Regions from separate parts of the Homo sapiens genome. Here region 1 is linked to region 2. Evidence: fine-mapped expression QTL. A gene starts in region 2. The other region holds a variant in brackets. All regions are shown on one strand. Distances are from middle to middle.

Region 1 (3,012 bases), 40 kb before region 2:
GGAAGTGATGACTAACCAGCCCCCCTTGACTCTAGATGCCCCCATCTCAGGGGAGCTGTAGTCTCCCCATTTTCCAGAAGGGATTGATCCCAAGGTTCCCATGGCTTCATGGCAAAGCGGGTAACCTGGCTGGGTCCCGTAGTGCACGTCTGTGATCCTAGCGCTTTGGGAGGCCAAGGCAGGAGGATCACTTGAGCCCAGGAGTTTGAGACCAGCCTTGGCAACATAGTGAGACCCCGTCTCTACCAAAAAAAATAATAATAAAATAAAAGGACATCCTGGAGTGGGCATGCTGGAGGTTGGACTCAGTGACCCCCTGGTGCCAGCTCCACCCTCTTCACAGAGCTGAGGCTGGTGGGGGGCCCCAGCCGCTGCCGGGGCCGCCTGGAAGTCATGCACGGTGGCTCCTGGGGCAGCGTCTGTGATGACGACTGGGACGTGGTGGACGCCAACGTAGTGTGTCGCCAGCTGGGCTGTGGCCTGGCACTGCCCGTGCCACGGCCCCTTGCCTTTGGCCAAGGCCGAGGCCCCATCCTGCTGGACAACGTGGAGTGCCGCGGGCAGGAAGCTGCGCTGAGCGAGTGCGGCAGCCGCGGCTGGGGCGTCCACAATTGCTTTCACTACGAGGATGTGGCTGTCCTGTGTGATGGTGAGTGGAGCCCTGGGACCTGGAGGGACAGACAGACTGTGGCAGGCAGCAGGGCTGTAGGCTAGATAAATGAAGGGACTTCCCACAGGTAAGGCTGTTCCATGCAGATCAGGCCAGAGGCTACAATGCCTGGTGCCAGGGAAGAACCCCAGCCTGGGTCCCAGGGATTCTTCTGGGTCATTGCCTGACCCTGACCTTGGACCAAAAGAAAACCAGCACTACTGCTTCTATGTAAGGCTTTGATTGTCCCAGCAGAGCCCCTCTCCCTTTAAAAAAAATTTTTTTAGAGATTTTGGAGATGAGGTCTCACTGTTTGGTCCCGACCAGAGTGCAGTGGTGTGATCATAGCCCACTGCAGCCTCAAACTCCTGGGCTCAAGGGATTCTCCCGCCTCAGTAGCTGGAACTACAGGTCCAAGTCACCCCACTGGTTCCCCTCTCCTAGTTTTAAAACCAGACAATCAGCCGGGCATGGTGGTTTATGCCAGTAACTCCAGCACTTTGGGAGGCCAAGGTGGCAAGATTGCTTGAGCCCAGGAGTTTGAGACCATCTTGGGAACATAGTACCTTATCTCTACGAAAAATCAGAAAAATTAGCAAGGTGTTGGGGGCGGTCCCAGCTACTTGGGAGGCAGAGGAGGGAGGATCGCTGGAGTCTGGGGGGGTCAAGGCTGCAGTGAGCCGTGATTGTGACACTGCACTCCAGCCTGGGTGACAGAGCAAGATCCTGTCTCGAAAAACAAAGAAAAAAACGACTATTGGGGTCACACTGGCCATGCGCTCCACGTGGCATAGAGCTGCAGCGGAAACTGAGAGCAGTGCTTCTAGTTTTCAAGAAAATCAGGGGGTCTCATGAAAACACAGATTGAGGCCCAATCCCAGAGTTTCTGATTCTGCAGGTCTGGATGGGGCCTGAGAATCTGCATCGCTAACAGTTCCCAAGGGAGGTGAACTGCTTTAAGAACTGTGCTTCAGGCTGGGCACGGTGGCTCATGCCTGTAATTCCAGCACTTTGGGA[A/G]GCCGAGGCAGGTGTATCACCTGAGGTCAGGAGTTCAAGACCAGCCTGACCAACATGGTGAAACCCCATCTCTACTAAAAATACAAAAAATTAGCTGGGCATGGTGGCAGGCACCTGTAATCCCAGCTACTCAGGAGGCTGAGGCAGGCAAATTGCTTTAACCAGGGAGGCGGAGGTTGCAGCAAGCTGAGATTGCACCATTGCACTCCAGCCTGAGCGACAGAGCAAGACTCCATCTCAAAAAATAAAATAAAATAAAAAACAACAACAAAAACCGTGCTTTAGAGGAGTCCAGGACTCTGGTGTGGACCCTCTCCTCTCATACCCCAGTGTTCCTGGCTGTGACTCTTTGTGTGGCCAGAGGCTCTGGCGGCAAGCACCTTATGGGTCCATCCTCCTGCCCCTTAAACACCCCGTGGTGTGAGGATGGAGAACAGAAAGACCCCTGTATCCACTTCACTTCCTTTCCAGAATTCTTGCCAACGCAGCCCCCAACAAGGAAGATGTTAACCAGTAGAGCACCTCCTACGACACTGCCGAATGGAAAAAGTACGTAAGCATAATGTGGGCACCACCTGGGTTTTGGGAGAGGAGTCTCTCACACCCTACCCTAGGCAGTGGGAAGACAGGGATTACAAATTGAAGATGTAAAGTTAGAGAAAATGGCTGGGCATGGTGGCTCACACCTGTAATCCCAGCACTTTGGGAGGCCGAGGCCAGCGGATCACTTGAGGTTGGGAGCTCCAGACCAGACTGGCCAACATGGTGAAACCCTGTCTCTACAAAAAATACAAAAATTAGCCAGGCGTGGTGGCATATTCCTGTAGTCCCAGCTACTTGGGAGGCTGAGGCAGGGGGATCACTTGAACCCGGGAGGCAGAGGTTGCAGTAAGATCATGCCACTGTACTCTAGCCTGGGGGACACAGTGAGACCCTGTCTCAAAAAAAAAAAAAAAAAATAGAAAATGAATGGGCGGTGAGACTGGAGCTTAATCTCACAGGAAGGTCAGATGAGCCCAAGAATGATGATCATGACTAGAAGAAGAAAATGAAAAGTGCTCTAAAAGAGGGACAGTGAAAGAGGCAAAGAAGTCCAGAGGTGGAAGAGGGTCCCGTTCCTCAGGAGATCAGGGAAGGCTTCCTGGAGGAAGAGGTGTGGGGCTGTATCTTGAGGATGTCATTTGCAGTAGATGAGAAGGCAGCACGTCCCAGGCTGCCAGGAGACAGGGAGCAGGGTAGGGGGGTTGGTTTTAGGCAGAAATGATACTATGATCCCACAAGCTACCCCCAGTCTGGACCAAGGAGGCGGTACCCTGGGCAGCGGGGTGAGCAGATGCCCAAGGGTT
Region 2 (2,500 bases):
AGGCCTGCAGGCATGGTGGCTCACATCTGTAATCCCAGCACCTTGGGAGGCCGAGGCGTGAGGATCGCTTGAGCCCAGGAGTTCGAGACCAGCATGGGCAACAAAGCTAGACCCCCGTCTCTACAAAAAAGCAAAACAAAGCAAAAAAACCCATGCTATCTGCAAGCTATGTGGAATAATATGAACGAGAATATATCAGCGTGACCTCAGTAGGTATGTATGTCTTAGGAGGGGAGAGAAGGGCTGGACAACCAAGCCCTAGACGCAGCCCAGTTAGATGTGGAGTAGGCTCCTGGTAGCTGAACTCAATCTTTAGCACTCCACCCTGGAGAGGAAGAAGGGGTTCTCCAGGGTCAGCCAGCAGACAGCTGCATCCTTTCTGGAAATCAACCACTGTGGCCAGCCGGTATTTGTCGTTCGTCCATGTTTTCACCTATTCAGGCCCAAGAGCCTCAAGGTGGGGTGGGGGGTTTAATGGAAGCTCGTAGGGGGTGGAGGTGACAGTCCCCAGGGTCTGGCCCCTTAATTCGGCCATCCCGCGGGCAGGCACCACACTGAGAGTCTGGATCTACAATGGACGCGCCTCCTGTCCTTCCCCCACCACGACCTGCTACGTGATCTCGGAAACAGGGTCTAGGACTGAGGCCCCTGCCCCCTCCTCTCGTAATTTCCCGGAGAATATGGGGCGGGGCGGTGAATCAGCACTCGCAGGGACTGATGCAGCCCTGATCCCCGCCAGGGGTCCCCAGCGGCCTCGGGATTCGAAGCACCCCCCCCCGTCCTCCTGCGCCTGCGCGCTATGTCCGCTGGGAGTTGTAGTCTTGACCGCCCCTTTGTCCTTGGTCTCCTCAGCGCCTCAGTGCACTGCAGGTTACACTACAACTCCCAGGGGCCCATGCGTCCGAGGGCTGGCGGGGCGGGAGGCTCAAGGGGGAGGCGTAAGGGGGCGACTGGAGAAGCTGGGGTGAGGGAACTGGGGAGTGAAGTGAAAAAAGGGGAGAGTGGGGGCGCAGTGGGAAAGGACGGGGTGCCCGGAAGACGCGCAGTGAGCCCAGCTGGGGAGCGGGGAGTTCTAGCCGCGGCCGGGCTCGGGCGGGGCATGGGCGGGGCTTGCGGACGGGTGGGCGGGGCCTGCCTTCGTCATGCGGCGTGGGCGGGGCCGCAGGGGGTTGTCCGTCAGTGGCACGCACAGCAGCCGCAGCCGCCTCGCGCCCGGTCCCGCGGTCGCAGCTCCAGCCGCCTCCTCCGCGCAGCCGCCGCCTCAGCTGCTCGCTCTGTGGGTCGGTCCTCTCCGGCACTTGGGCTCCAGTCGCGCCCTCCAAGCCCTTCAGGCCGCCCCAGTGTCCTCCTCCTTCTCCGGCCAGACCCAGCCCCGCGAAGATGGTGGACCGCGAGCAACTGGTGCAGAAAGCCCGGCTGGCCGAGCAGGCGGAGCGCTACGACGACATGGCCGCGGCCATGAAGAACGTGAGTGTCTCCTCCCCTCCCCCGCCGCTCCCTGCCCCTCCGAAGACGCGGTCCTTGGCGTGGAAGGCCCGGGGCTTCGTCGCCCTGTCGCGATGGCGGGTTGACCGCCCCGTCTCGCTCACTGAGGGGGGCTGGGGAGGGTCCCGAGAGGCGACGGGAACCCGGGCTGTGACGCGGCCTCTTTTCGGAGTCCCCGTGGCCCCGCGGCGCTGCCATTCAGGCCCGGCGCGGGCGCGGGCCGGGGCGAGGTCCCGCGGGGCTGGACTTGGGAGCGGGGTCTCCGGCCCCCGCGGCTCTAGGGGTGCAGGGGACCCGAGCGGGGAGGCGTGCGCATCCTTTGTGCCCCACTTCCCCCCTCCTCCTAGCCTGGGCGTGGGGGCGGGGGACCGCATGGATGCGGTTCCTCTTTCTCTCCCTGGTGTCTGGGCGGCGCCTTTCCCATTCACTCAGCAGGTCTCCCGGTTTTCCACCTCCCCAGCCCCCCCAGAATCTTCCCCACTGTCTGTCCCGACACATCCCTGAGAATCTTCCCAGAAACATTGTATAGGGTCTCTTGAAAACCTGAGCTCCGTGGTGCAAAATCGAAACCACCTTGCTCACGTTTTTCTTAACAAAAGGCTCTTCTTTCTCCATTCGCCCAAAGCAAGTCCTCCGGCTTTTAGGAAGGGAGAACGTTTGTCTCGCTAGCGTTTTCATTGATCATTCTCAACATGTCATCTCCATTTTATTCCCTAATGTTTTTGTATTGAAAAGGGTAGGTATTGCCTGTAAAATTAAAAGGTGGTGAATGTAGCTGACTGGTTCGATTCGTGTGACATATGCCGTTTCTTTTTTGAATACAGGCACGCGTCTGTTGAAATTCCTATAAGTTGGGGGAAAAAATATTCTGTCTGATCTGATAGTGCAAACAAAGCCGTGGTGAGAGGCAGTATCAAGTCATTCCAGAAGATTCTGCATTTGTCATATTGCAGAGAGCCTAGACTGGGTGGAGGCTGGGAGGAGTTATTTTAAAGGGGAAAAAGTCTTTTTAAAA

Evidence for each region. PIP is the estimated chance that this variant, and not a neighbour inherited with it, causes the effect.
Region 1: its variant is the best candidate, but not a certain one, in a credible set for the expression of YWHAG in whole blood (TOPMed, PIP 0.54).

What each region holds. Positions count from the first base shown.
Region 1 is chr7:76,397,923-76,400,934 of GRCh38, reverse strand. It overlaps SSC4D (scavenger receptor cysteine rich family member with 4 domains), which reads left to right. Exons shown (of 11, transcript NM_080744.2): 4 at 344-649; 5 at 2,138-2,215. It also overlaps a transcript of ZP3 not described here. Among named protein-coding and RNA genes, the nearest start is that of SSC4D, 10 kb to the left of the region's middle. The variant A/G (reference allele first, on the strand shown) is at 1,667.
Region 2 is chr7:76,357,689-76,360,188 of GRCh38, reverse strand. YWHAG (tyrosine 3-monooxygenase/tryptophan 5-monooxygenase activation protein gamma) reads left to right here and starts at 1,198. Exons shown (of 2, transcript NM_012479.4): 1 at 1,198-1,467. The coding sequence starts at 1,381. RefSeq lists silencers at 864-1,273, 1,594-1,793, 1,877-2,067 and an enhancer at 1,123-1,769.